Regions from separate parts of the Homo sapiens genome. Here region 1 is linked to region 2. Evidence: fine-mapped expression QTL. A gene starts in region 2. The other region holds a variant in brackets. All regions are shown on one strand. Distances are from middle to middle.

The links.
Region 1: its variant is fine-mapped to the expression of GRIP1 in whole blood (TOPMed, PIP above 0.99). The same link has a PIP of 0.9 or more in monocytes.

What each region holds. Positions count from the first base shown.
Region 1 is chr12:66,399,915-66,415,748 of GRCh38, reverse strand. It overlaps GRIP1 (glutamate receptor interacting protein 1), which reads left to right. Exons shown (of 25, transcript NM_001366722.1): 16 at 9,321-9,466. Among named protein-coding and RNA genes, the nearest start is that of HELB, 110 kb to the right of the region's middle. RefSeq lists an enhancer at 7,424-7,924. The variant C/A (reference allele first, on the strand shown) is at 7,913.
Region 2 is chr12:66,670,689-66,686,522 of GRCh38, reverse strand. GRIP1 (glutamate receptor interacting protein 1) reads left to right here and starts at 7,447. Exons shown (of 25, transcript NM_001366722.1): 1 at 7,447-7,673. The coding sequence starts at 7,619.

The DNA.
Region 1 (15,834 bases), 270 kb after region 2:
TCCTTTTTATGGCTGCATAGTATTCTGTGTGTATATATATCACATTTTCTTTATCCAGTCTATCATTAATGGGCATTTGGGTTGATCCCATGTATTTGCTATTGTGAATAGTGCTGCAGTGGACATAAGCGTGCATATATCTTTATAATAGAATAATTTACATTCCTTTGGGTATATATCCAGTAATGGGATTGCTGGGTCAAATGGTATTTCTGCTTCTATATCTTTGAGGAATCGCCACACTGTCTTTCATAATGGTTGAACTAATTTACATTCCCACCAACCATGTAAAAGCATTCCTTTTTCTCTGCAACCTCACCGGCATCTGTTGTTGCTTGACTTTTTCGTAATTGCCATCCTGACTGGCATCAGATGATATCTCATTATGATTTCAATTTGTATTTCTCTAATGATCAGTGATGACGAGCTTTTTCTCATGTTTGCTGGCTGCATGAATATCTTTTTTTGAGAAGTGAAGTTCTTTGTAGACTTTGGATATCAGACCTTTATCAGATGGATAGATTGTGAAAATTTCCTGCCATTCTGTATGTTGTCTGTTCACTCTGATGATAGTTTCTTTTGCTGTGCATAAGCTCTTTAGTTTAATTATATCCCATTTATCAAAGTTTCTTTTGTTGCCATTTTCCTTTGGCATTTTCGTCATGAAATCTTTGCCTGTGCCTATGTCCTGAATGGTATTGTCTAGATTTTCTTCTAGGGTTTTTATAATTTTGGGATTTACATTTAAGTCTTTAATCCATTTTATTTTATTTTATTTTATTTTATTTTATTTTATTTTATTTTATTTTATTTTATATAAGGTGTAAGGAAGGGGTCCAGTTTTAATTTTCTGCATACGATTAGCCAGTTCTCCCAGTGCCATGTATTAAATTGGGAATCCTTTTCCCATTGCTTGTTTTTGTCAGGTTTCTTGATGATCAGATGGTTATGGGTGTGTGGTCTTATTTCTGAGTTCTCTAATCTGTTCCTTTGGTCTATATGTCTGCTTTTGTACCAGTACCGTGCTGTTTTGGTTACTGTAGCCTTGTAGTATAGTTTGAAGTTGGGTAGCATGATACCTCCAGCTTTGTTCTTTTAGCTTAGGATTGGTTTGGCTATACAGGCTCTTTTTTTATTCCATATGAATTTTAAAGTAGTTTTTTTCTAATTCTGCAAAGAATGTCAATGGTAGTTTAATGGGCATGGTATTGAATCTATAAATTACTTTGGGCAGTATGGTCATTTTCATGATATTGATTTTTTCTATCCATGAGCATGGAATGTGTTTCCATTTGTTTGTGTCCTCTCTGATTTGTTTGAGCAGTGGTTTGTAGTTCTCCATGAAGAGGTCCTTCACTTCCTTTATTAGCTATATTCCTAGGTATTTTATTCTCTTTGTAGCAATTGTGAATGGGAGTTCTTTGATTATTTGGCTCTCTGCTTGCCTATTGTTGGTGTATAAGAATGTTAGTGATTTCTGCACAGTGATTTTGTATGTGGAGACTTTGCTGAAGTTGCTTATTAGCTTAAGAAGCTTTTGGGCTGAGATGATGCGGTTTTCTAGATATAGGATCATGTCATCTGCAAAGACAATTTGACTTCTTCTCTTCTGATTTGAATACCCTTTATTTTTTTCTCTTGCCTGATTGCCCTGGTCAGAACTTCCAATATACTATGTTAAATAGGAGTGATGAGAGGGCATCCTTGTCTTGTGCTAGTTTTCAAGGTGAATGCTTCCAGCTTTTGCCCATTCGGTATGATATTGGCTATGGGTTTGTCCTATGTGGCTTTCACTATTTTGAGTTATGTTCCTTCAATACCGAGATTATTGAGAGTTTTTAAATGAAGGGATGGTGAATATTATTGAAGGCCATTTCTGCATCTATTGAGGTAATTATGTGGTTTTTGTCTTTAGTTCTGTTTATATAATGAATCACATTTATTGTTTTGTGTATGTTGAACCAACCTTGCATCCCAGGGATGAAGCCAACTTGATCGTGGTGGATAAACTTTTTAAAGTGCTGCTGGATTCAGTTTGCCAGTATTTTATTGAGGATTTTTGCATCCATGTTTATCAAGAATATGAGCCTGAAGTTTTTACTTGCTGTTGTATATCTCTCCCAGGTTTTGGTATCAGGATGATACTAGCCTCATAAAATGAGTTAGGGAGAAGTCCCACCTTTTCAATTGTTTGGAATAGTTTCAGAAGAAATAGTACCAGCTCATCTTTGTACCTCTGTTAGAATTCAGCTGTAAATCCATGTGGTCCTGGGATTTTTTTGGTTGGTAGCCTATTTATTACTGTCTCAATTTCAGAACTGGTTGTTGGTCTCTTTGTTCTCATTAGTTTCAAAGAACTTCTTGATTTCTGCCTTAATTTTATTATTCACCCAAGGTTCACTCAGGGGCAGGCTGTTCAATTTCCAAGTAGTAGTGTGGTTTAGAGTGAATTTCTTAATCTTGAGTTTAATTTGATTGTGCTGTGGTCTGAGAGACTGTTATGATTTCAGTTATTTTGCATTTGCTGAGGAATGTTTTACTTCCAATTATGTGATCAATTTTAGAGTAAGTGTCATGTGGCAATGAGAAGAATGTATATTCTGTCGTTTTGGGGTGGAGAGTTCTGTAGATATCTGTCAGGTCCACTTGATCCAGAGCTGAGTTCGAGTCCTGAATATCTTTGTTTATTTTCTGTCTCGATGATCTGTCTAATATTGTCAGCGGGGTGTTACAATATCCCACTGTCACTGTGTGGGAGTATAAGTTTCTTCATAGGTCTCTAAGAACTTGCTTTATGAATCTGGGTGCTCCTGTATTAGGGGCATATATATTTAGGATACTTAGCTCTTCTTGTTGAATTTAACATTTTTTTTCTATCTTTGTTGGTTTAAAGTATCTTTTGTCAGAAATTAGGAGTGCAGGCTCTGCTTTTGTCAGTTTTTCATTGCTTGGTAAATTTTACTCCATCACTTTATTTTGAGCCTATGTGTGTCACTGCATGTGAGATAGGTCTCTTGAAGACAGCATACCAATAGGTCTTGGCTCTCTCTTTATCCAGTTTGCCATTCTGTGTCTTTTAACTGGGGCATTTATCCTGTTTACATTTAAGTTTAGTGTTGATATGTGTTAATTTGATCATGTCATCATGATGCTAGTTGGTTATTTTGCAAACTTGTTTATGTGGTTGCTTCATAGTGTCACTGGTCTGTGCATTTCAGTGTGTTTTTGTAGCAGCTGGTAATGGTTTTTCCTTTCCATATTTAGCTCTTCTTTTAAGAGCTCTTGCAAGGTAGGCCTGATAGTGATGAATTCCCTCAGCATTTATATGTCCGAAAAGGATCTTATTTCTCCTTTGCTTATGAAGTTTAGTTTGGCCAGATATGAAATTCTGGGTTGGAAATTATTTTCTTTAAGAATGTTGAATATTGGCCCCCAAACTCTTCTGGCTTGTAGAGTTTCTGCTGAGAGGTCTGCTGTTGGTCTGATGGACTTCCCTTTGTAGGCGTCCTGGCTTTTCTTTCTGGCTATGCTTAACATTTTTTTCTTTCATTTCGACCTTGGAGAATCCAACGATTATGTGTCTTGGGGTTGATCTTCTCCTGTAGTATCTTATTGAGGTTCTCTGGATTTCCTAAATTTGAATGTTGGCCTGTCTTGCTAGGCTAGGGAAGTTCTCCTGGATTATATCCTGAAGTACATTTTCCAACTTAGTTCTGTTCTCCCCTTCTCCTTCAGGTACCCCAATCAGTCATAGATTTGGTCTTTTTACATAATCCCATATTTTTGGAGGTTTTGTTTATTCCTTTTTATTCTCTTTTCTCTATTCTTGTCTGCCTGTCTTATTTTAGAAAGATAGTCTTCAACTCTGAGATTCTTTGTTCCACTTAGTCTATTTGGCTATGGACACTTGTGATTGCGTTGTGAAGTTATCATGTTGTGTTTTTCAGCTCCATAAGGTCATTTATGTTTGTCACTAAACTGGCTATTCTGGTCATCAGCTCCTGTAATGTTTTATTATGATTCTTAGCTTATTTGAATTGGGTTAGAACATGCTCCTTTAGTTCAGTGAAGTTCATTATTACCCACCTTTTGAAGCCTACTTCTGCCAATTCAGTCATCTCAGCTTCAGCCCAGTTCTGTGCCCTTGCTGAAGAAGTGTCGCAGTTATTTGGAAGAGAAGAAGCACTCTGGCTTTTTGAGTTTTCAGCAGTTTTAAGTTGATTCTTTCTCATCTTTGTGAACTTATCTACCCTCAATCTTTGAGGTTGCTGATCTGTGAATGGAGTTTTTGTGGGGTCTTTTCGTTAATGATGTTACCGTTGTTGCTTTCTGCTTATTTGTTTTTCTTTTAACAGTCAGGCCCCCTTCTGTAGTGCCGTTGTGGTTTGCTGGGGGTCTACTCCAGACCCCAAGCCTGGATCCCTCCTGTGACAGCAAAGGCTACAAAACAGCAAAGATGGGAGCCTTCTCCTTCCTCTGGGAGCTCTGTCCCAGAGGGGCACTGACCTGATGCCGATCTGGAGACCTGGAGACCCCTGTTGGGAGGTCACACCCAGTCAGGAGGAACGGTATCAGGGACCCGCTTAAAAAAGCAGTCTGGCTGCCGCTTGACAGAGCAGGTGCACTGTGATTTGGGGAACCACCCTCATCCAGACCACCCAGACCCTCCAGAGCCAGCAGGCAGGAAAGGCTAAGTCAACTGAACAAGAGAGACCATGGCTTCCCCTCCTGCAAGGGGCTCCATCCCAAGAAGATCAGAGTTCTATTCATAAAACCCTGGCTTAGAGTGAATTTCTTAATCTTGGGTTTAATTTGATTGTGCTGTGGTCTTGAGAGACTGTTATGATTTCAGTTATTTTGCATTTGTAGTTGCTGAAATTCCTGCAGGTGGTCTATAAGGTTCTTGTACTTGAATATTGATATCTTTCTCTATGTTTGGGAAGTTCTCTGTTATTATCCCTTTGAATAAAATTTCTACCCCATCCCTCTCTCTACCTCGTCTTTAAGGCCGATAACTCTTAGATTTGGCCTTTTGAGGCTATTTTTTAGATCTTGTAGGTGTGCTTCATTGTTTGTCTGTTTGTTTGTTTGTTTGTTTGTTTGTTTTGAGACAGAGTCTCACTCTGATGCCCAGGCTGAGTGATGTGGTGCAATCTCGGCCCACTGTAACCTCTGCCTCCTGGGTTCAAGCGATTCTCCTGCCTCAGCCTCCCAAGTGGCTGGGATTACAGCTGCACACCACCATGCCCAGCTATTTTTTTTTTTTTTTTTGTATTTTTAGTAGAGACGGGCTTTCACCATGTTGGCCAGGCTTGTCTCGAACTCCTGACCTCAGGTGATCTGCCCACCTCGGCCTCCCAAAGTGCTGGGATTATAGGCGTGAGCCACCATGCCTGGCCCAGCTTTTTTTTTTCTTTCATCTTCTCTGGCTGTGTATTTTCAAATGTCCTGTCTCCAAGCTTACTAATTATCTCTTCTTTTTTTTTTTTTTTTTTTTTTGAGACGGAGTCTCGCTCTGTCGCCCAGGCGGGAGTGCAGTGGCGGGATCTCGGCTCACTGCAAGCTCCGCCTCCCGGGTTCACGCCATTCTCCTGCCTCAGCCTCCCAAGTAGCTGGGACTACAGGCGCCCGCCACTACGCCCGGCTAATTTTTTGTATTTTTAGTAGAGACGGGGTTTCACCGTTTTAGCCGGGATGGTCTCGATCTCCTGACCTCGTGATCCGCCCGCCTCGGCCTCCCAAAGTGCTGGGATTACAGGCGTGAGCCACCGCGCCCGGCCACTAATTATCTCTTCTGCTTCATCAATTCTGTTGTTAAGAGACTCTGATGCATTTTTTTAGTGTGTCAATTGCATTTTTCAACTCCAGAATTTCTGCTGGATTTTTTAAAATTATTTTAATCTCTTTGTTGAATTTATCTGATAGGATTCTGAATTTATGATCTGTATTATCACACACTCAAAACTTTATTGTTTACTCAAAACAGTAATTTAGAATTCTCTGTATGAAAGGCCATACATCTCTATTTCTCTGTGATTGGTCTTTCGTGCCTTATTTAGTTCACTTGGTGAGGTCGTGTTTTCTCAGATGGTCTTGATGCTCATGGATGTTCATTGGTGTCTGAGAATTGAATTGTTAAGTATTTATTATAGTCTTTGCAGTCTGGGCTTGTTTGTACCTGTCCTTCTTGGGAAGGCTTTCTAAGTATTCGAAGGGGCTTGGGTGTTGTGATCTAAGTTTTTGGTCACTTCACCTGTATCTCCATTAGGGGGCACCCCAAGTCCAGTAACACTATGGCTCTTGCAGACTCAAAAATACTGCCTTGGTGGTCTTGGGTAAGATCCAGAAGAATCATCTGGATTACTAGGCAGAGACTCTTGTTCTCTTCCTTTTCTTCCAAACAGATATAGTCTCTCTCTCAGTGCTGAGCTGCCTGAAGCTGAGGGGTGGTGGGGTGACACAAGCACCCCTTGGTCACCACCACTGAGACTATGCTGGTTCAGACCTGAAGCCAACGTGGTACTAGGTCTCAACTATGGCTGCCAGTAAACCCTTACTGGCTACCACTAGGCCATGTTCACTCAAGGACCAAAGGCTCTACAATCAGCAGGTGGCAAAGCCAGCCAGGGTAGTATCCTTCTTTTCAGGGCAGTGAGCTCCCCCTGGCCCCTTGCAGGTCTAAAGATGCCATCTAGGAGCCTGGTCCTAGAGTCAAAAACCTTAGGAATCTACCTGGTGCTCTATTCTACTATAGCTGAGCTGGCACCCAAGACACAAGACAAAGTCCTTCCCATCCTTTCCTCAAGGAGAGAAGTCTCTCCCCCTGGCCACCACTGCTCCAGGCCCATGGCAAGTACTGCCTGGCTATTGCTGATGTTCACTCAAGACCCAAAGGCTCTTCAGTCAGCTTGTGGCGAATGCTGCCAGGGCCGGGACTCTTCTTTCAAGGCGATGGGCTCCCCTCTGTCCCAGAGCAGGTCCACAAACGTCCAAGAGCTAAGGCCTAGAATCAGGGAACCCAAGAGCCCACTTGGTACTCTACCCTACTGTTGCAGAGCTGGTACCTAAGCTTCAAGATAAAGTCCTTTTTACTATTCCTCTGCTTTTCTCAAGCAGAAACAGCCTCTCCCCATAGCCACCACAGCTGGGAATGTGCTGGGTCACACCTGAAGCCAGCACAACTCAGAGTCTCACCTAAGGCCCACAGCAAGTACTACCTGACTACTGCTGCTGATTTTATTTTTTTATTATATTTAATTTTATTTATTTTTTGAGACAGAGTCTCATTCTGTTGCCCAGGCTGGAGTGCAGTGGTGCAATCGGCTCACTGCAACCTGCACCTCCCAGGTTCAAGTGATTCTCCTGCCTCAGCCTCCCGAATAGCTGGGATTACAGGCGTGCACCACCACGCCTGGCTAACTTTTGTATTTTTAGTACAGACCGAGTTTCACCATGCTGGCCAGGATGGTCTTGAACTCCTGGTCTCAAGTGATCCACCCACCTCGGCCTCCCAAAGTGCTGGGATTACAGGCATGAGCCACCGCGCCCAGCCATGCTGCTGATTATTCAGGGCCCGAGGGATATTTAGTCAGCAGGTGAAAAATGCTGCCAGGACTGGGTCCTTCCCTTCAAGGCAGCAGGTTCCCTTGCAGCCCTGGGTGTGTCTAGAAATGTTATCCCGGGGCAAAGACCTAGAAAAGGGGCCTTAGGACTCTGCCCGGTGCCCTGTCGTACTATGGCTGAGCTGATATCCAAGTTGCAAGACAAAGTCTTCTTTACTCTCCCCTCTTCTCTACTCAGTTAGAGTGAAGGACTCTCTCTGGGAGTTGTGAGCTGTGCTGTGTAGGGCTAGGGGAGGGGTGTTGCAAGCACTCACTTAGCCACCCCAGCTGGTTTCTCACTAGGTCACATG[C/A]CCCCCAAGTCTACTGGCTCTGAGCTCAGCACAGCATCAGGGCTTGTCCAGGAATTGCTGTCTTTGTGGCTTTAAACTGTCTTGAGTTTATTTAGTACCCAAGAACACTTTAGCGTGCAGCAGTGAGGCGTGTTGGAACTCAAGTTCTGACCACCGGAATGGGTGATTCCCCTCTGCCTAGGGCTGATCTAAATGTTCCCTCCGTGGATATCAGCTGACTTCTGCCCAGTGTTGCTTTCCGCTGTGACAGGGTAGCACTGAGTTTCAATGCAGTCTCTCCCTCACTGTGTTCTCCCTCCCACAAGTGCACAGTTTTTCTCTCCATGCCATGTGGCTGCTGCAGAAGGAATGGGGGAGGGGCCGGCATCATCAGTTCAAGACTTTCTTTCCTACCCTCTTCAGTGCCTCTTTCAATGATATGAAGTTAAAACCAGGTACTGTGATTGCTCATCTGATTTTTGGTTCTTATAAAGGTGCTTTTCTGTATGGATAGTTGTTAAATTTGGTGTTCCTGCAAGGAGGATGATCAGTGGAGGCTTTTATTCAGCCACCTTGCTCCGCCTCCCTCCTGTTACCATTTTCTAGCTACAGGCAGGAGGTGGGGAGGGTCCCCAGAGAGTCTGGGGCATGCATTTTTAGAGGGTAACTTAAAAGAAGGGAAGGGAGAATGGATGCTGGGAGACAATTAGCAGTCTCTGGCACAGATATAATGCATAAAAGGCTGTTCTTACAAATCTGTGTATATATACATATACACACATAGAAACATATACATACTACATTCACATTATTTTTTTTGTTGTTTCATTATGGACCTTAAAATTTTTTTCAACAGACCTACCCTGGTCCACAGCCAGTTTTAGAGTCTCAGTGGCCACTTTCCAAATAAGAAGCTATGGATTCATCTATAAATTTTCATGCTACTCTGGCCATAGTGAGTTTCCAGATGCAAGTGGAAGTAGCAGAGGTGCAAGCCTTAGGCTTCCACTAACTCTATTACACCTTGCCTTCTGTCATTCTCTTAATGCTCTCCTAGTATCTGGACTACCAAGGATCAAAAGTAATACAACAATATGGAGAAAGACAAGGATACCTGGGTCTATGCAGACCCTCGCCCATTACCTCCCTTCCTAGGAATTGTATGCTTCCTGAGTGACACATATGTTCTTGTTTAATTGAAAAAAGTATAAGAAAAAATGTTTTTAATACTCTGCAATTTAATATCATGGCAGGCAACCCAAATAAGACTAGAAGAAGGGAGGGAGTTGTCAATGAAGTACAATTTAAAAACAGTTGAACCTCTTTTCCTCTAAAGACTACCATAATGCTGCATTATGCTTAATGCCTCTTTAAATGGCCTAGTTAAGTGCTCATCATTAGTCATGTGTTACTTTGCATTCACTAACAGAACTGGGACCCTGGAACTTGGGGATAAATTGCTCGCAATAGATAATATCCGGCTGGACAACTGTTCCATGGAAGATGCAGTTCAGATCCTCCAGCAATGTGAAGACCTGGTGAAGCTCAAAATCCGCAAAGATGAAGATAATTCAGGTATTGAGAGCATCCTTAGTTAAAACTGATTTTTCGAACTGCCCATCTGTCACCAAAGATATTAGATCTTGATGTTTTACATACAACAGCTGGCTAGTGATGTGGCAGCAGTGTTTCACAGCTAAAAGAGTCTTTAAATTTTGTGCTGAGAGTGTAGTACAAATTTTAAATAATGGTGCTTGTAAATGATATCATTAAGATATTTTCATTATAGAAAACATATTATAATTGCATGAAAATAATTTTTAAAGATGAAATCTAAATCATCATCTAATACAGTGAAACTGGTAGTTTTCTAGTTTTTATTGGTATTCATATGGCATAACTATAACCAAGTGAATGTTGCATTTTTTTACCTAATTTTACATTGTAAACATTTGATCGTTTTATAAACTCTTAATATCTATCATTTTTATTGACTGCCTGTGATTTACCTTTCTTCTCTTCTTAAATCACTATATTGCTTCCAATTGTTTCATTATTGTAAATAGTACTCTTATAGACATCTTTATGCATAGATATCTTTATCCAGCTTTTTTTTTCTTTTGAAATAAGAAAATATTCCTAGAAGCAGGATGGCTGAGTAAGAATACAAAGGAAATGTCTATGATTCCTGATGAGTCAGTCATGCCCCATGTTGCTTTTCAAAAGGGCTATACACATTTTTTAGGCCCTCCAATCAAACTTAGGAGGGCATAGAATCATATCTGAAGAGCTTGTTAAAACACAGATCCTGGCACCACCCCAGGTGGGACCTGAGATTCTGGATTCCTAATAAACACCCAGATGCTGCCACAGCTGTGGTGCAAGGAGCACACTTTGGGTAGCCCTGAAATAAGAGACATCTTATCTGATTATGATAAGAATATAGAGCCAATTGAAAAGTGTCCATTCACCAAAAGAGTCAGCTAATGTGGGGAATTACAGAATGTGATATGGATCCATAAAGTAAACGTTTAATTTACAATTTTGCCAATCTCGTGGGTAAAGTCAAGGCCTTTCCTATTAATATGGTTCTGCTGATTATACTTACAAGTCTTTTTGTTTGTTTGCCTAAACCGTATCCACAATATATATTTTATGATTTCCAGTTTTATTTTGGTTTGGTTTGGTTTTTAATGCAGTGAGACTTTAAAGAATTTATAGCAATCTGAATTCTTCCTCCACCTAGATTTTGGTTTTCCCCAATGTTGTAGAGTTTTTCCATTAGGTAATTAACAGTAGATGTTTTGTTTGTTTGTTTCTTGTTTTGTGTGGCACACCCAGGCTGGAGTGTGCCATGGAGTGCAGTGGCGCCAACTCTGCTCACTGCAACCTCCACCTCCCAGGTTCAAGCAATTCTTGTGCCTCAGCCTCCTGAGTAGCTGGAACTACTGGTGTGTGTCACCTTTCCTGGCTAATTGTTGTATTTTTAGTAGAGATGGAGTTTTGCCATGTTGGCCAGGCTGGTCTCAAACTCCTGACCTCAAGTGATCTGCCCACCTCGGCCTCCCAAAGTGCTGGGATTACAGGTGTGAGCCACTGCGCCTGGCCATAGATTTTTGCCTAACGAACCCTTATTGAATCTTTCCAAACCATTGGATTTTGTTTTCATAGAACAACTACATTCATATTTCATAGGTTATATAAGATTAATTAAATTACATAGTTAAAATAACAAGTACAGCTGGCATAAACGGGTTTAGGAATAAATATAATTGCCTCTAGATTTTGAAGTTTACAACTCAAGCAGGAGCAGGAGCAGAAGCCCAGAGGGGCAACATAAAGAAACCTATTGCTCTGGAGCATGCCATGGCATTGGTCTGTACATTTTATGGTGGAAGACGAACAGCCACAATTAATTCAGTAAATTGGTTAAGTGGAGATTGGTTAAGAGAACGTCTACTGTATATAATTTCATTGCAACCAATAATGAAGTTGTGGCAATGTTCTGGGATTTTGTTAATCAGGTCATCTAGATCTAGAGTTCACGGTTATGTCAGGCTATGTGTTTATGATTCCTTTTCCAAGTAAAAAAAAATCTATAGTTGCATCCATCAGTACAATTGATAATAATGATTATATCCAAATATATTTTATAACCAATGTTTAAAAATATGCACAGGTTTGCACTCATTATTTCTTAAGCAACTGATTTTCTGTGCCAACATTTGCATTTCTCTCCTTACAAGCCTGCTTCAGTTGCACTTTCTTTTGGGGATTGATTTCAAAATAGAGAGGAAGCCTTTAGCATCAGCCTGGGTTCTGTCCTAGTGAAGAGGCAAAGCCCTGTGGAGAAACCTGTTTTGCATGATTTGCCCTGCTCAGCAGATGTCAGCTACCTTCCTTGCAAAGTGAAAAAGCCAAGCCAGAGATGAATATGTATAGTGTGCACAGCTGGCAATGCACCCAGTTTCAAAGCCAGGCTGTGTCTACCAGTTGGCAGGAGTTTCTGAAACAACTGAGCACTTGGAGAGCTAGATCTTATTTTCAGTTACTGATTTCCTTTGCCTCATTTTCCCCCTTTATACCCTTCCCCTACAATCTCTATGTATACTATTATGATGGTTATTGTGCTTATTAAATATGTTTTAATTTTAAGAGGCTCTGTTTTTAAAATCCTAAACCTTCCATTGAAAAACATACAACCACCCAAAATAAGACTATAAATATTGGCATGAGAGATATGCTTACCCAAACCAGATTTTCTCATATTGATATACAGAAATATATACTCATTCAGACATGGTTTTATAAAAGATCACTCTTTGAAAATTATTCAGTTATTGATTTGGAAGAATTTATATGATCCTAGTATCCTCTTCCCTCATAACATCATAAATATAATTTGAGTATCTGAATTCATTTTTATTCAGAGCAAAGTAAGGGAGGAAAAAAAAACATTATTCAAAATGTAAAGCCTGACCACAGATTATTTAAAGGCAAACTAAATCTTCACAAAGAGCAAATGTTTTAAAACCAGACATGATATAAGAACTCAGAAGAAGAGAGGGTAGACGGGGGATGAGGGACAACAACAACTACATATTGGGTACCGTGTACACCACTTGGGTGATGGGTGCACAAAAATCTCAGGCTTCACCACTACACAATTCATCCAGGTAATGAAAAATCACTTGTACCCTTAAAGCTATTGAAATAAATTAAAAAAAAAAATCAGACCTCAGTTTAAAGTTCAGCTCTACCACATTTGAGCTGTGAGAGTTTGGGCAACTTGGTAAACTTGTCTGAGATTTGGTCCCATTTTCAGTAATGTCTACATAATAGTACCCATCTCAGGGAGCTCTTGTAGCTTACTGAAGGAAATACTGGCACAGTCCATGCTCCACTCAATAAGTGGGGACTATCTGTATTCTAATTACCTCCTGAAATCCCTTTCTCTGCATTCGTTCTGATCCTTGATCAAGATATGACTGAGTGGAAAATAAGCATTTACCCTTTGGACAGTCACTGATTTTGAAAGTTTGATATAATGCTTAATCTGAAATTATGCTGGTGATTAGAACTATCACATTAAATAGTTGTCATGCTTCGTCTCAATATTTTTGAATGGTAATATTCAGCGTATATTCTCCACCCCCAGAAATATTGCTCATACTAATGTGGGCCCTCTGCACTGCAGGAGTTTTCCAGTCCTTTAACTGCTGGCTGCTCTCCATCCTTCAGTGATGATTCTCTCTCTGGTCACAGGAAGTTTATAACTATACTTGATGGAACTTGGTTTCCTAAGCTAGCTTGTACTGCAATTGGGGTTTAACAGATACTACTTCAAAATGTAAGCATTTCTTCCAGCTTCCCAAGTCTCGCTACCCTGCTGTGTACCTTACCCAAGGAGATGGTAGAACTATTCCCAAATGCTGCTAAAGCCCTCGATTTTCAGTCATGCCATCAGCATTCGTTTATTGTCTATGAAGTATCAGGCAATGTGCCATGGACTACCAGTTCTTAGATAAAAGGGACACAATCCTGCCCTTAAATCAGTTACCACCAAATAGGAGAAACAAGAAAATCAATAATTAACAATATGATGAATGTCATAAGGATATGCACAAAATATTCCACAATGGTAAGAGAATGTGAAGGCATCCATTTCAGCCTGAGGACCTCAAGGAAAAGATTCTAACAACCTTGGTCTCGAAGGGATTTGTGAAGTGGTGCAGAAAGTTAGGGAGAGCATGGCACACTCTAGTAGGCAGATATGGCTCAAGCATAACGTGTGCAAGGACTTGGTAGTAGGTAAGCTAGAAAGGTATACTGGAGCCAAGTCATTATGGGCCTTGTAAATCATGTTAAGAAATTTGAATTTTATCCCAGAAACCAATGGGGGGCCATTAGAGGACTTAAAACAGGAATGAGGCCCACTGGACTTGGTTAGTGACCATTAATTTTAATCACTTGATGAAAGCGCTGAATGAGCCATTCAAGAGAGTCTGAATTAACTCTGTTTCTAGCCCAAGCTGGGGGAAACAGTAGAATGAAAGACTAAGAATGCCAGACTGGCTTCACAACTGACAATCTGGGAAATTTAGGCAAATTAACTTCTCTGAGCATCAGTTTCCTCATCTGTAAATGTCCATTTAATGCTTACTTTACATGGCTGTTTTAAGGATTAAAGGAGGAGATATATGTGTGTGTGTGTGTGTGTGTGTGTGTGTGTGTGTGTGTGTGTGTGTATATATATATACACACATATTTTTTTTTTTGAGACGGAATTTTGCTCTTGTCGCCCAGGCTGGAGTGCAATGGCACAATCTCGGCTCACTGCAACCTCCGCCTTCCAGGTTCAACTGATTCTCCTGCCTCAGCCTCCCAAGTAGCTGGGATTACAGGTGTCCACCACCATGCCCAGCTAATTTTTTGTATTTTTAGTAGAGATGGAGTTTTGCCATGTTGGGCAGGCTAGTCTCGAACTCCTGACCTCAGGTGAGCTGCCTGCCTTGGCCTCCCAAAGTGCTGGGATTTACAGGTGTGAGCCATCGCACCTGGCCTAAAGGAGGTAATATATTTAATAACTCACCAATAAGTTTGCACCTAGTGAGGCCCAATGAATGTTGACTATCAGTGGTCATTACTGTATTTGGATATTTTAAAAGTGAATTTCAGCTTTATTTAACAATGGCCAAATCTTTTGGAACACTTGGGGTTGTAGGCGTTTTCCTCCCTCACTCTGAATTCAGCCACCCTCCTGCCTTCAGGAGCTTCTGCATTTGTCGTCTTCCATTACTGAAGGAATGTAACTCAGGTAGTGTCCAGTGGTTCTTGTGTGGGTCCAAGGCTCTGGGATTCCTGAGGCTGCTACCCAATCCCCAATACCCAATCAGCAATGCAAATAATCCTCTTGAAAAAAATCTATTGTTTTGCCTTGATGGTTTCTGAGTCCAAAGTAAATGAAGAGAGTTGGAAGACCTGGCTAGGGCCTGAGAGGAAACCCTGAAGCAAAGCAGTAGAGACTTTTGGGGATTTGTAGGAAGAGATAGAGGTTTGCAAATCTATCACATATAGTTTTCAAAAGTCGGCTTTGTATTACCACCTTTTTGTCAATCAAATATACAGCTATTAATGATTTCTCGCTTGGTTTGGGGAATATTACTCTAATATATAGCATATTTTTGGAGACCATAAATCAATACTTTACCTTCATGGGCTGTAATCTGTGTTTAAAAAAAACCATTTTCAGGCTGCAGCTTGTCCTATTCAAAACAAATAACCTTTATACAGCCTTATTACTGATTAAATTAGTCCTTTGAAGACAGATTCATATTTTGGGCTTCAAATATTTATAGTTTACCAGTGTTAAGCCAAGCTAAGTAATTTGCAGTAGCTTTTTCCCCTAAACCCAGATTGGAGTATTGGTGTAGCAGAGATGCCCCATTCCAAGCTCCCAAGAATGATCTTGGCTGTCCTAGGAGCAGTGGAAAGAGGTGTGTTGGCAAGAAGCTGGCTGCAAGAAGGACCTATGATAAAAAGTACTTTTCTCTTTTTTGCATGCTTGATCTCATAAAGGGACGGCTCTCAAGCTTGAGTGTACATCGGAATCACCCAGAAGACATTAAAACACAGATGACTAGGCCCCTCTCCCAGAGTTCCCATTCCTGTTGGTCTGTGGGGTAGGGATTCTCAGTCAAATGCAAACTTGAGAATTTGCATTTTTAACAAGTTTGCAGATGATGCCAAAACTGCTAGTCCTAGAACTACACTTTGAGAAATGCTGTCACAAACAAACCTAGTTTTGAGACTTAAAATTATCACTTACACAAAGAAATTTGAATTCTACTCTGAAACACTCAACACTTGCTTGGACATCTCTTGGTATATCATTGTGACATATCTATGTAAAATGACCGTGCAGCAGTAAGGGAGCTGTAGAG
Region 2 (15,834 bases):
ATGGAATTACAGAGTTTTTAGCAATGTATTACTAGAGCTTCCAAAAACAGACGCATGAATTACTTTAGAGATACATTATGTCCTTGACAGGCTATAATTATGCATGTTAGACCAGAATCTACTATCAGGATGAATGTGTATTTGGTATTTCCTTCATACACAGACCAAGACAAATTTTTAATTTTAGCATCTTTACTTTGCCTTTTTCTTTGTTGCTCTTGCTGCCTCTGACTTCAGTGAACAACTAGCTGGGCTGTATGTTTCTTCATATTTGGTGAACAACAGGGTCCTTATGATCTTGTCAGAAGCACCAGGAATGAATCTGAGGTGTGCTCTGGAAAGGTGGGCACAAAACACATGCCTTTTCCTTTTTCTCCTCTGCAAACAGTTAACATTCAAGAATCATGTTATTTGGAAGAATTTTCTCTTAAAGTGGCAGAGCTATTGTTGTTTTTTTAAAGTAATTTATGAGCGTCCTCTTTTCCATAAGAGTTTTACAAACAGTATTGCATATAAAAGAAATCCACTAGAAGGGAAATCCTTTCACATTTATTTATTCGACAAAAGTTTATTGAACATTGGCGCTATGTGCTAGGTACTGTTCTAAACAATGAACAAAATAGACCAAAAAATCCTGCCCTCAGTTTTAAAAAAAGCCATGGGCAGGGAGCAGCAGACAATAAACAGAAAAATAATCCAAATAGGTAGCGTGTTAGATGGTGATTAGTGACATAGGAATAAAATAAAACAAGAAAGGGTGATAAGCTGGGTATGGAGGGAGTACTGTCAATAAACTACTTCATCCAACCTGTTTTAGAAATCTAATTTCTTCCCTTGATCTAACCTAGCTGCTGTGCGCACATCACTGCTCCTTATGGTTGGGGTTGGATTTTTGAAGTAGCTGTGTTTCTTTCCTTCCTAGTAGCGCATAAGCCCACCACCGCTATATCCTGGGAGTGTGGAAAATGAACATTCTTTTAAGACAGCTTTAGTCTATGTATTGAAAATTAATCTTTTTAATTTGGATAAATATAGAACCTCTCCCTATTGGGTTTCCACTTTTCTTTATTATTCAAATAATGTGCTTTTATCTGCAAATTGTTGGTCAAAGTATCTGACATAACTCAGCTGTATGATATCCTAAATCCATGAGATTATTTATATTAAAGTACTTATTAATTTAGCCCTTAAAAAAAAAGAACAAAATTTGACTAGCCCTACAAAATTTGAAAAGTAATACTTCCCCCTGCCCCCAAAGAACTACTCAGACATTCATACAAATAAAAGCAAGTGTTGGTCAATGATTCTGGGATGAGTTAGGAGGAAGAACCCATGTGTGGGGCCCAGAACCTCAGTGCCTAGAACAAGGTAATCAGTAAAGGTCTGTAGGAGAAAACTCCTGTGCACAGTAACTGTGAAGGTCTGGACTAGGATGCTGGCAGTCAGGTGGGAGTATATTAAGAGGTATTTTAAAGGTGAGCTTAAGAAAGAGGGTGATGATGTAGTGAGCTCATGGAAGAGGAACGTGTGTCCTACTGGGAAGGAAATGGAGCTTGATACAGTTCAAATCTAGTTGGAGATGGTCATGAAGGCTGCCCACAGATGTTGGACTCAAGGATGAGAGAAGGTAGTTTTGTTTCGTTTCGTTTCGTTTTGTTCCATTTCATTTCATTTCATTTCGACAGAGTCTTGCTCTGTCATCCAGGCTAGAGTGCACTGGTGGGATCTCTGCTCACTGCAACCTCCGCCTCTTGGGTTCAAGTGATTCTCCTGCCTCAGCCTCCTGAGTAGCTGGGATTACAGGTGTGCACCACCACGCCTGGCTAATTTTTGTGTTTTTAGTAGACACAGGGTTTCACCATGTTGGCCAGACTGGTCTTGAACTCCTGACCTCAAGTGATCTGCCCACCTCGGCCTCCCAAAGTGCTGGCATTACAGGTATGAGCCACCGTCCCCCGCCAGGGGAAGGGAGTTTTAAATGAGGGAGCAAATTTGGGCTGACAGTTGAGATTTGAGAGTCAAAGCAAAGAAGTCATTGCTGGAGCCCTAGGAGAGGATAAAATGCTGAAGAAGGTGACCAACATGCTGTGACAGAGCTTGGGGGAATTCCGACATTTAAGGGTAGAGAAAGAAGAGGCATGAGAACAGGAAGAGGTTGCAGGAGTCAAAGAAGGGAAATTACTTCGTGCCATTGTAATGACAGAAAATGTTGTGGAAAAGGGTGCGTTTTACTTGTTAATCCCAATTCCACCTGCTTATGATTTCTCTGACCAAACCAATCCATACTAATCACATGGAGCTAATTTAAGGAAGAGTCTGGGTTCTGTAAGCAAGTGTCAAATTGTACAATTGTATTTCCTACCAAATACAAAGTGGCTAATAAAAGCTGTTACTGCTCTCTGTTCTAGGCACGTTACACAGATAAACTCAGTTTACCATTCAAACAAGCCTAGAAATGATTTTTACCGTTTTGCAAATGAAGAACAGAAAGGTTAAGAAACTTGCCCAAGGTCACGCAGCCATTTAGTGGCAAAAGCCAAGAGTCAAAGTCAGGCAATTTGATTCCAAGCTGTGTTTTTGGCCATTACACCATTCTCTCCTACATAATACCTCCATAAACAGTTGGACATACCTAGGCTCTTAGGAGGATGATTTCTGGTAGATTTTTCCTCTTGTACAAGCATTTCTCAATTTCTACATATTCTATCTTTAACATTTTCCACCAGATGCTTTTAGCTGATGAATTTCTAAGGTTGTTACCTTCACAGGAGCTTTCCTGGTCTCTTCATGTTCAGTGGAGGCAACCTTCTTTCCTTGGCACTGTTACGGGCATCAGAGCCCTGCCTAGATAAGCAAATGACACATGAAGTGTGCATTATACCCACCCTTTTATATCACAACACACCAGAGGCCCTGAGCTACTAAGTGCTTTTTAATCACCCCAGATTTGCAAGAGTATGTCCTAATGACACTTCCTAAAGGGCATCATTACTTCTATAAAAATGTTTTCTCATAAAATATTTGCTTTAAAAAATGCCTGATAAATTCTGTCTTGGGCAATTACACCAACTTTTCACACCCTTAGAACCTGTGTCAGCAAATTGGGTCTTGCTTTTTTAATAGTCCTTCATGACAGCTCATTACTGGCGAGTTCTGTTCAGTGTACATCTCCCTTGTCTGACCCTAATGTTTGGTCTCATGTTGACACACTAGTTGAACTAAGTAGCAGACAGTGGTCACAAGAATTATAACATGTTTGAGCTCATGGTTGCTTTTGGCATCTTTGAAAAGGGAAGTAAAAATGGCCGATTATAATAAGCTAAGAATGAGTCAGTGACGTTGTCTGTAAGGAGATGAAAAAGTGGGTGAGAGTCGCATTTTAAGACCTCCGAGAACACTGAGTTTTAAAATACCCGGAAGATTTGGGAAATACACAACATTTAATAACTGTGTATGTGTTGCAGGGTAGGGGGTGTGGGGATCAGTATATTCAATACTAGCCAAGTCAGGATGTTCCATGCTGTTTAAATAGTGAGCTAAGCATGTTAAGCATTTTTAAGCAACAGCATGCAAAGGAAAAGAAATGTAATAGTTAAATGAATAAGCAAATAAATGGGATCTATCAGGTATATTTTGTAACAGAAAGATTTATGAAGTTGAAGAAAGTGCAAATTATTTTAGCACTTTAATCAAATTGATTCTAATGATATAAAATAGTTGAGTATTTGTGGGATTAACCTCATTGTTTTGGTTTTTTGCAAAATGAATTTCCAGGTTTAGGCATATGGCAGAACATTTTTGGTTTATGATGATTCTTTCTTGTTAAGAATCAGAAGAACCTCCAAACAGCGCTATTTATTTTTGGGATGGAGATGTTATATAAAAGAATGAATACAATGGCGGAGAATCAAGGAAATGAGAAAATTAGAATAAGATTATGGGGCTATGTGTGCCACCTGCTGATGAAGCTGTGGAATGCTTTGGTTTTGAGACTATATTGGAATCTTTGAGCCAATCTTAAGGTTTTGTTTGTCCATACACCACAACCCACCCCCTTCTTATGATAAAATTAGTACCATATTGTCAATGGAGGTGATATTCCAAATATTTCAAAACCAGCATGACACAGGCCAGTCAGGATGGGCTAACCATGCAGTGAGAAGGGATTCCTGTAAACACTTGATACGTAATGGTCTTTCACCAGACGGTACTTGCCTTAACTGTCACCTGTTTCTGGTTCCTTCTGGTCAGGGTGGTCCTAGAACCATGAGCTGTGCTTCAGAGGGGAGAAGGTGATAGGCACTAGTTTTTCCCTCTGTCAAAAGATAACTGCACTTAAAGGTACTTTGTTAATTGAATTTGTCCCCCTGTAAACTAGATCACATTTTGTATTGGTGGCAAGGAAGCAGTGAAAAACAAGAGGAGAAAGAATGATTAGCCAGGGGTGAGAAGCTATGGTTCTTTCCTGTTCTTTACCACTTACTAGCTGAATGACTTTGATGAAAAACACCTTCTCTGAAACCAGTTTTCCTTTTCTGCATCAAAAACCTATAACAGAGTCGCTCCATGATACATTATGTGTGAAAGTGCCTTCTAATTCATTAAATTCTATGTAAACGTGGTACACTTGTATTACACCTTAGCAAAACTAATGTTTTAAAGAAACCCTGAAATAAGAATTATCATCTTAAGGGACTAGTCTGCCCTGAATCCAGCAAACCCATGTTTTCATGTATTGAGGTGTTTGTGTTTTTAAGAGGGGTAAACCTCTTGAACTAGCTCACTCACTCTTCTTCAGATCACATTGGGGCTTAATCAAATCTGTATTTTGTACAATTTTACCTGCCTTCTTTTTCCATAACCCCTACTTGGTGACCCTCACAGAGCATGTTGTAAAGTTTGAACTGTCTAGACAGCTGAGCCACCATAATTAACATGTTCATGACAGGTCCCAAAGACACATGCTTACATTGATCTGGTAGCCAAGAAATGTAGGTCACTCTGCCTTGTAGTAGCTCATGTTAGGAGCCTGTGGTCCACATTCCACCGGTTGCCTTGGCCATTTGAGACCTTCATCCTACAGATCGATACATTTTGAGATAGAAGGCTTGCATTGTTGGAAGGCATTTTACCAGTGCTAGAGTTCAGGATGGGAGGCTAAGCTTGCATTAGGCAAAGGGAGGACAAAGGGTTTAGGGCAAGAAGGTTGACCTGGGAGTGGCTCCCCAGGAAATCTCCAAGCATTAGCGAGGCCAGAAATGGAAGAAGATGGGAATACCTGGTGAATTCGTTCATTTTCTGGAAAAGAATTACTCCAGGAGGCTCCATTTCTGTAAGATTCCTGGGGCTGCACCTGGGCAGACTAATAGGATAGATATGGATTGGCAGCCACAGTATTCAAAGAGAGAAAAAACAATCCCCTAGTTTGGGCTCTCAGAAACCTTTCAAAGAGCTCCATGATGGGTTATTTCCCCTGCCAAAGAAATAGGACATTTTAGTAGTTCTGAAGACCTTTCTTGGGACCAGAGGATAGAGCTTTTAAAACAAAACAAAAAAAATAAGCATATTAGGAAAAGGGGAAAATATTTGATCATTTTAGTCATAAGGAAAAAGCAAATTGGATTTGAGTCTGCAAAATAGCAGAAGGCAAGAGATTCCTGTATGGTTTTGAGTTGTATTTGAATAGACTGGGCTGGGGTGGTGGTGTTCCACAGGCAAGATTCTACTAATAGTAATTGACAGCTGCGTATTCTGAGTGCCTGGATTTTAGGAAATATGTTAGATTTGGAGAAGAATCTTGGAAAGAGCTAACTGTAAGTATTTATCTCACTTTAGCTAGTAACTCAGTTCTCTAGTACTAAGGTATATTTCTATTTAAAGCAAAAAAATATCAAGGAGGCTAAACTATTTCTAGGGATAACCTAATAGAGATGAACATAATATGGGTTGAAATTCAAAGAAAGATTTATGCTAATCAGAACAATTATAAAAATTTGATTTTGCACTGCAGTCCATTTAATATAGTATTTTCTATTGATTAGTGGTTGCTTTAGCTAGACCATCCTTGGTAAAAGAATTCTGTTCTTTTCAAAAACCTTTAAAGTAGATGCTTATGATATTCAGATGTTTTTCACACACAAATTATTTTTCTATTGGACTCAAAATACAAAGCATATGCATTTCAATAGCAGTGGATTGAAATTGTTTGAGTTCATATTGAATTTATGAATGAAGAAAAGAAAGTTTTACCACTAAATTTGGAATGTTGGAAGTTATTTTAAAAACCAGCTTGAAAGTTTTTTCACAGCCTGAAGAGTAGAGAATAAAACTGTATGAATAATTCATAAAGTCCTAGAAATATTAATCAAGTAGTTTAGACAGTGATATATCTTTTCATTTTGACTAATTGATTTTTTTTTTCTTAAACTTCCTGGCCAACTGTCTAATTTTTTGTCCTGAATGTTTATGTTAACTCCTGTGGGAGAATTCTGGATTTTGATTAAAATTCCCTACCAAATGTTAGTTCGTATTGACTATATGGCGAGCAGGCTGCTGCTGGCAGATGAGGAGGTGTGCTCCGCCTTCTTATCACTTTGTGAATGGATTGTGAAGGGTTTGTTAATTTGCTCTTCACTCCATTGGAGCAGATACTCACAAATATCTGCTATGTCGCAAGACCGTTTTATTTGCATAATGAGAAGAATGGTTTGGGGGATGGTTGTTTGGGAAATAGTATAATAAAGTATATTAAAAATAGAAATACTTGGCCTTGTTTGCCTTTATTTCTGGTATCTTTAGAAACAGTCTTGACTGTGTTGCTTTCCAGCCAAGTCCTTTTTTGGAAGGGTGATTAAAGGGGCTGGGACTCCATCTGCCTGATTGTCTGCCTAGCCCTAACCCTTTCTTGTATTCCCTCTATAAACAGACACTGCCTTAACTCTCATAGGTTCAGGAAGTACCAAAGAGGTCTCTGTCCTAGAGCTGCTTCCCCGCTATAGGCAGAACTGTGATTCTTTCCTCAATCCCAAATATAAACGGCCCTCCCTCTTTTTCTTTCCTTTTTTTTTTTTTTTTTTTTGGTTGTTGTTTAAAGAACATAGTACATGACCCATGCATTTCTTCCTAAAGTAAGAGTGTAAGCATTTCACTTGCATTTCCCATTAAATGAGACATATAAAGGACACTGACTTGATGCTGAGAAGGAAAGGGGCTGATGGTGGCTGAACTGACTGGATACATCGCCTTTTGCCTTAAACAGAATGCACTGTTCAGTGCTTAGCGTTAGATTTATGGAATGGCTCCTCACACAGTGTCGTCCCTGCTTTGTACAATTTGGTGCTTTGTTGCTATCGAAACGGCATTACTTTCTAAGCCATTGTGATTGTGAAGGGGGAGGAGGCTGTGGCAGGCAGGGGTGGTAGTAGTAGTGAATGACACAGATTTGCCAGATGACATGTAGCGGACCTCTGCATCAGCCAAGAGGAATTAAGCTTTGTCACTCCCCACTGGGACTACCTTTCTCCTGGTATGTGCGCAAGGAATTCATATGCTGCTGCTGCTGCAGCCACCAGAGCAGAGAGCCTTGAGTACACTTTGCCACAGAAAGCAGTGAGCAAGAATGATAGCTGTCTCTTTTAAATGCCGTTGTCAAATTCTGAGGCGACTTACTAAAGGTATCGTGCTTTCCTTGTTATTCCCTCAGCGAGTCTGTTGCAGTATCCTATAAACACAGTTTAATGGTTTTTACTTTCAAATATGACTGCCTTTGCAATTTATTGTCAGGCAACAAAGAACTCAGTGAAATATGTATAGATACATATGTACAGGTAGACTCGGCTTTGCTTTCTGTCCTTACATCTCGGTTGTGTTCGTGCTGAAATTATGAAAGCAGCTTGTGTGATTTTTTTTTTAATGACTTCATTCTTTGCTGAAAAGAGAATGTGTTTGGGTCCGGTGCTGAAGTTATTGTGGGAAACCGTCATTTTGCATGCTGATTAACTGGCCAAAAGGAGTCAAGTGTGTGTTACTGTCCTTTCTATGATACATATACTAAATGCAGCTGGCAGATTCAGGACTCGCACAGCTGGTGGATCCACAGAATAATTGTTTGTTCTATGACTTTCCAACATCTTAAGAGCTTTTTCCCTGGACAGCTTTAATTTCTTTATGTGTTAGAATTGCATGTTCAGAAAAGTATGTAATTCCAAATGCTTTGGTCCTATGTAATACTAGAAGTTTATTTGAAAGTAAAAATCATTGCTCGGAATCTTATCATCAAGAATTACCAGCTTCAGATTGTCACTCTTAGAACTCTAAAATAGTAATTAAATTTCTCTGTAATATTTAAGGTATTATTTTATTTGAAACCATTCTGGATGTGCCATCTCGTTTACTTTGTGAGCATTCTATTGCAAAGTTAGTAAATGGATGCCTTAAAAATCCTGCCTTGTGTCCATATAGATATGTGAGCTCTCTTGCCTTATTTCCTTTAGATAGAACCTTCCTTAGAGAAAATTTATTATTTAAAAAAAAACTTCATTCTGAGTAAAAGTATTTAGTTGCAAATGCCTTTCTTTTTCAGCCTGTAATATAGAGTACTGTTGAGTAATTAATGGATATAATTATGTTCTAGAAGCTCTGAACCTATAAATATGTTAATGGATGCTATTTCTGTCAGTTTAGCTTGACATATCAGAATTCTTTGATCACCAGCAGTGCAGCTAAAAATGCAATTAATATTTTATCTGGCAGAAGAATGAGCACAAAGCAAATCATGAGAAATAGATCTTGAGTCAATAACAGGAAAGAGAATAAATACTGTAGACCAACTTACCGAATGCATTTGCAAGTTGTTTGGATAGCAGAGTGAGTCCTTTAAAAGGTACTTTGGGGGAAATGTAGGGAAGATTATACATTTTAAATTAGGCTATTAGCAGGAGGCTGTAAATTCTGTTTTGACTTTATCCTCTACAATTGGTACAGACGTACAATTTCTGTTTATAAATCATGACTAAGAGACTATCCTTTCTGTTACGGTTTTGGCTGAGACTTTTAAAGGCAGGCCCTTATTCTGAAAAGTTCTTTTCTGACCTGATTTTGGCATTTACTTATCTTGATGTTGAGAAGTTGATGGTCTTCTTACATCATAAACATGAAACAATCAGTATTTTCTATTCATCTGTATCAGTTCTTTTATAAGTACTACATACAAGGAAGAGAGTGAACCCAAGCAATTTATAGTTCTTACAAATATTTTTAACTTTCTCAGTTTTCTGAATTTTATGGAAGCATTGATCTCCTGCATTGAAAGGAGATTTAAGTGTTTACTAAGATAGTCGCTAAAAATCTAGATAATTGAGGAAAGTATTGATAACTGCTTTGGAGTTGCTACCTCACACTTTTTTCCAAAATCTTTATGTCTGCTCTATTTGGTATTTAACTTAAGACTGTCAGTTGATGATTAAAATAAAATCTCTTTGCAGAATCAATTTGCCATAATTGGGTTCTTCTTTGTGTTTAACTGGCTGTCCAAATACTTACAAGAATGCACCTGAGTAACACGGTACCTTGCCTTGCCATCTGCTTCAGTCTTGTCCAACAACGTTCAAGTTCCACCCATGCTTCTTGTTCCAAAGTGGATTCATTGAGTTCTAGCACCCCACCCATACTTGTGGTGCTGTTTTCTTAAGCTGTAATGATAAAACCAGGAAACATATGTAATTACAATATTAAAATGACCTTTCTTTTAGGGTCAGGAGTGTATTTGGGGACAGGGGTGGATATACACTTGAAGTTTCTTTCTTGTCCCATTCTCCCTACTCACACAACTCCCACACCCTCACCCTCAACTCCCAAACATACATATTTCTTTATACCCATTGAGGGCTCCACCTAACACTCACTCTTCCAGACATTTAGCACAAGGCATTACACTTAGTAGGCACTTCAAAACTGTTTGTTAAAATGAATTGGATTTGTCTAGTTGAAAGTAGTAGGGCATTTAAATCTTCTGTGAGCTCTTAGGAAATGCTTCAAGAGCTTTATTAGGCCTCTTGTGGCTAAAACCTTACCCAGATCTTAGCAGGGGGAAGTTTGCTTCATGACTCCAAAACTACCTTGCTATTTGTGGTTGATATCACCCACAAGAAAAAGCAATATGGCAATTGCAATTTCTTCTTAATTTTCTTAAGGAGAAAATGATGGAATAAAAGGGAAACAATTTTCTACAAACACCCACATTCTTGATATTTTTACTTGATTCTTACATTCTTCATATATCTAATACATACTTAACAAATATCGATTAAGTACCTACTATGTGCCAGACACTGACATTTTTGCACTTAGAATTCTGGGCTGGGACAATTTATAGGTGTAAAAAGCATTTTTAAAATGAATATATTATTGAACAATAAATATTTTTTCTTTAGGTCAGATGTAATTTTAAAAGATGTATAAAACATGTATTTCTAGACAAGTCCTTGGATCACTCCACATAGACACTGATCCACAGTATTATAGTAGAATATATTTCAGGTAAACTTAGCACTTCTCTGACTTGGGAATTGAGTCATTTTCTTATTAATGTTTCAAGCCACTGTTTCAATCATTTTGCCTTATCAGGTACCTACCAATGTAGAACAAGAGCAAGAAAATAACCTTTACCCAAAAGGCCCATGCCTGCCATTATGAGAGGAACTTTGGTTCATGAAAACACCAAGCACCGTCAAAAGCATTCCGTTTCCCATCTAATATTGAAATCTAAAGAAGCAATGCCGTTCTTTTCTTCCTCCAGAATGAGAGTCTACCAATTACCCAACCTTAGAGCCAAATCCCAAAATAACATTTTGTGAGGTTTCCAGAGACATCTGACAAAAGGGTTTTCTGGAGTGGGTAAATCTAGGCTTCTTGGCACCTACCTTCACAGCTGTTTACCTGGGACAGCCCTGGTTTCTCAGCTAGGGGCTACCATACCTCAGGGGAAGGGAGTATGTTCTCAGAGAAGGGGAGATATTTTCATGGCTCCCACAGACTTTGTTCTTTTTCTCTTGTCATGATTGTGTGATTACTTTTCCTTGAGACAGTTTGGCCTCATATGCAGAGAATCACTTTCTCTGGTGATATGGGATGTGACTCTGCTGCTTGCTCAGGTGCTGCCATTTTGAGCTCCGAGATCTGAACTTTCGTGCTCCACTGGCAATGGCATTTTTCTTTCACAAGCTTCACTCTGCCTACCAATGCCAACATCAGCCAATTAATATTTACTGACATTCCACAGGGAGCACGGCTCTGGGCACCTTTCATTGTTTTGCTGCCACCCACCCTCTCTCTCTGTCTTTTCTCTACTGGCTCAAAGCTCATGTCGGAAACCTTTGCCTTCACTTTAGTATAGACTTCAACATTTTTCATCATAGCTGGCCTACGTGTCATTTTATTTTCTACTTATCTTCACTTTCTCTCTCTTCCCAAATACACATATGGCCTAAAATAGAATTAACTCTCCCTGTCCCTTTCCCACTAACAAACTATAAGCAGCCCCGTTGACCTTCATCCCAATGGGGTGTCTAAGTGAGACATCTGTGGCTGGCAGGGAACTGCTCCCTGCTGTGCATTCTACTTTCTTTCTCTCTCCCTCTCTTCTTCCTGATTTCTCCTCCCAACCTCAGTATCTTTTCTCCTTTTCTGCTGTCTGGGCATGTATGGGTATTGCTCTCTCCACTGGCACTGAGCAAGATTAAAAGGCTGGGTTGTGATCACACTCACTCTCATTTTTTCAGTCATTGTTCCTTACACTTACCCCAATCATGGAATCATTATGCTTGAAAGGGAAGGTCAGACATTCGTCTAGGACTTGTTTCCAGAGAGAACTGAAACTCAACCATCTCAGACAACCAGTAATCTTATTCTCAATTCTCTCTGACAAGAACAATCTCACAGTTTGTCTGATAAACTTTTAATGGATTACTCAGGTGACGTCTAAATCCCTTTAAACTCTGACACTCATCCTGTGTTTAAAAGTTCTTCTATTTAGAAACTCATTTCCTAAGTGTAATCTTAATTAAAGAAACACATTTAAATGTTTTGTCTTAATGGAAGAGGAAAAATATTTCCCATCTTTTCTCATCTGCAGAATCTTTTAATCCAAGGAATTCTGAATCCATCACAGAGTTCAGTATCAGTGTTCCAAACCTGATGGCTCCTTTGCTGGTGGCCTTGGATTTTCTGTTCTGGTCACTTTGCTCTTTCCCATCTGTCTGTGTCTAGCCTTGTGGTTCCTTCAGCAGTCTTCTCTAATGATTCCTCATCCACTCTGTGATATGATTCAGAACTGATCATCATCTGGGTTGAGAATGCTCTCTCTCTCTGTGCTGGACCTCATTTCTCCTGTCTCCCCATCCTCATCCATTCTGCTAACCCTCGCTGGCCTTCTCTGTCAGATCCTGCCATCTGGAACAACTTAACTGTATCCTCCACCTCGTTAACTTTCCACCCCTTTCCAAATCTCACCTGCAACCATGTCCTTTCTGCTTTGCCTCCACCCCTTCATTTCATGCCATCAAAGCTAGTGCATTTAACGTATTTATCTTTCTAGCCTATCAACTTTTTAAAATAATATGCACTTAATAGATATTTCACAAAGTAAGTCTGTCTTGTTTTATTGGAGTTTCATCTATTGCTAGGGCATGGGGCATATTTCTCTTGCAAATAGAGAGACCCCACTTGAACAGGAGAATGCTGCAGCTGGGTCCCAGGCAGGTCTTGTTCTCGCGCAAGTGCTGCTCGTGGTCCAGATTGTGATGGATTTCTTGCTGTGCTTCTAGCCCATGCTTTGAGGGAGTTTACATTGAACAGTGGCTTGGACCGCTTTACTCTCCACTGGACTGAAGCTTTTCGTTTATATAACTAGTTAGAATTATCATAATGGCGCATTTATTTCTCCCCTGTCTTCCAAATGGGAATTGGATGCTAGAAATACTTTACCTCGTTCCAGGAGGTACCCATCCTCCAGAGGAAATTTTGGCTATGCCTTGTATGACCCCATATAAACAAGAAGGAGTCTACACCCTTCTTATATGATTGTAGCAGGTTAGGAAGAAATATCTGGTTCATTACTGGGAAAAGGAGGGCCAATGTAGGATAGGCATTCTAATCGATTAACTTATATACTTTTGGGAAATGTTTAGGAGGAAGAATGGAAATAAGGATAGCTAACATTTATTGAGCACTTACTTTCTGCCAGGTACTATTCTAAACATTTTACATGTACTAACTCATTTAAATCTTGCAATATTATCGTCATTATCCCCACCATACAGATGAAAAAGAAGAGGTTCAGAGAAGTTAAGAATCATTCCTAAGATCACAAGTGGAGGACAGGAGGAACCCCAGTGTTTCATTTTTGCCATTTTTTTTCTCTTCTAGAAACGGATAGAAACCATAGACCTGCCTATCTAGAATAATAAAGAGAAATTAATCAAGACAACACCACACTAATCTCTCAGCATTCCTTATGGTAGGGGAAATAGAATAGACTTAGAAATTAGAAGATATGTCAACCTTTCCTAGCTTTCCTATTTTTACTTGTGTGGCAAAAACAAACAAACAAAAAAACTGAATTTCCCCCACTAAATTTCAGTTTCTTAATCTGTAAATTAAAAATTACTTGTGAAAACTGTTTTATACTCATGTTAGCTATAACAAAATGATTTAATTTTCTACTACAGTTGATTTATTTGAAATTCTTATATTAGTAAATTCACTTTATTCTGGCGGAAAATATATAATTTGATAACTTCCCACTATTTGAGAGGAGGCAAAATACATAGTTTCTAGGGATAGGCAAGCCGTCAGTGTTTGAAACTCATCTTTTTCTCTCTTTTAGTTTCTTACCACTTTTTTGCCCATATACATGAGAATTATGTTAAATTTAAAATTAGTAACTGCTGCTTTATTAAATATACAGAAGAAAATCTTATTTGCAGATTTTTAAAATAATTATTTGTTTCAGTATCGCATATATCCAAAAAAAAAATGCACCCAGATATTTATTACATGTAGCTCCTTAAAGGATGTTACTGCACCCTTCAAACCAAGGAAACTTTGACCTTGCCATTACAAAAAGCAATAAAAGCAGTGGTCTTGGATGTCTCAGTCAATGATGACCACCTAAATTCAGGCAAAGCTCGGGGTATTAGAAAGTGAGAAAGAGCTTCTTACTAATAATTCCAACTACATTATTAAATAGCTGAATATATGAAGAATACAATAAGTTACATTTGTACTAAGGAAATTTCTATTCATTTTCAAAACAGATGAATTAGGAGAAAAGGTAAAACTAAATATCACTAAAGATATGTTGTCATCATAATAATGGAAACCAATGGAGGAAAACAAATTGATTTACAAATTATTATGCTTTTTAATAAGTTGAAATTATATGTATAATACATGTTTTGTCTTACATCTTCTTCCTAATATTCTGCCCATTTGTGCACATTAGCACACACTTGTCATAGGAAACTGTTACTGTCTCTGTAGTATTTCCTTATGTGGATAATATATCTTTAGTTTGTTTCCCAGTTTTCAGTCTAATACATGATACTGAATTGTCTTTAAAGAATTTATTTTGTGCTTTAAATTGTTGCCTTCATGTATCTTCACTTTCAAGTCTTCTGATACATATTGTCTGAGAAATGTGTTTAGGATACACGTCCCACACATTTTCCCCAAGGCTTTCTTAAGCTAATAGAGGTGGCAGAGAGAAAAACAGTGGGAGAAATAGCGTTTGGATACCGTAATATCTAAAAACCAAAGCAAAGATGAGAGAAGGAGAGGCGAGAAGCAGCCCTTCTGTTTTGTAAGTGGGTCATTGCTGACCTTTGAGAGAACAGTTTTCACAGGGTATTGATGTCCAAACCAGATTATAAGGATTCTCTGCATTAAAGGCAACAAGGGCAGACCACTCTTTTAAGAAGTCTGAAGGTGAAAGTTAGGCTGTAGATGGGCAGCAGCCTGTGGGGGTGGAGGGCGGGGTCATGGGGGATAAGGAAGGCTATTATAGGATGGGAGAAATCTGAGCATTTTTTAAAAGGATAGAACCAGTAGGGAGGTAAAATTTCAAGATGCAAACTAGAAGAGGGATGAACTCTAGAACCAGGCAAGACAGTGTGAGTGTGAGACCACGAGACAGATGGCAGCCAGCTAGAGTGAGCAAGAGGGACACTCTTGTCACAGAGACAGGAAAGCATAGGAAGAAAGACTTTGAGGTGGACATTAAGGAAATTAATCAAACTTGACTTTCTTAGTAAATCAGAAGATGAGTCTAAAATCTCCTATTTTTATGAGCACCCAATTCAGGGGTTTCTAAATTTTTCTCTCCATTGGAATTACCTTGTAACCTTAAGAAAATAATGTTGCCTGGATCCAACCCCAGAGATTGTGATTTAATTGCCTGGAAGTGTGGCCTGTTCTTTGGCATTTTAACACATTCCCCAGGTGACTTTACTGTGTTAGCTGAGTTTGGGAGCCATGGACCTAACGTACTGGCAGCTTCATAGAGATGCTACTAGATATGTTTCAGCCAGAGACAAGCCCAGGAATTTTACTCAGCTGCTAGAAGGGAGAAGCTGAGCAGATATAAGGGCTATGAAACTGCTATAGCCTTCCTGTGACTTTGAGGGCAGAGCCTGTCTGAAAATGGCAGTGGATCCAAAAGAAAGAGACACCATATCTGACTGTCATCACTTCAGCCCCTGCTCAAGAACTACCTTAAGGGAGCTCTGAGCTCTCCCTTAGACTTCTTCAGTTAAGTTAGCCATTAAATGTCTTTAACAC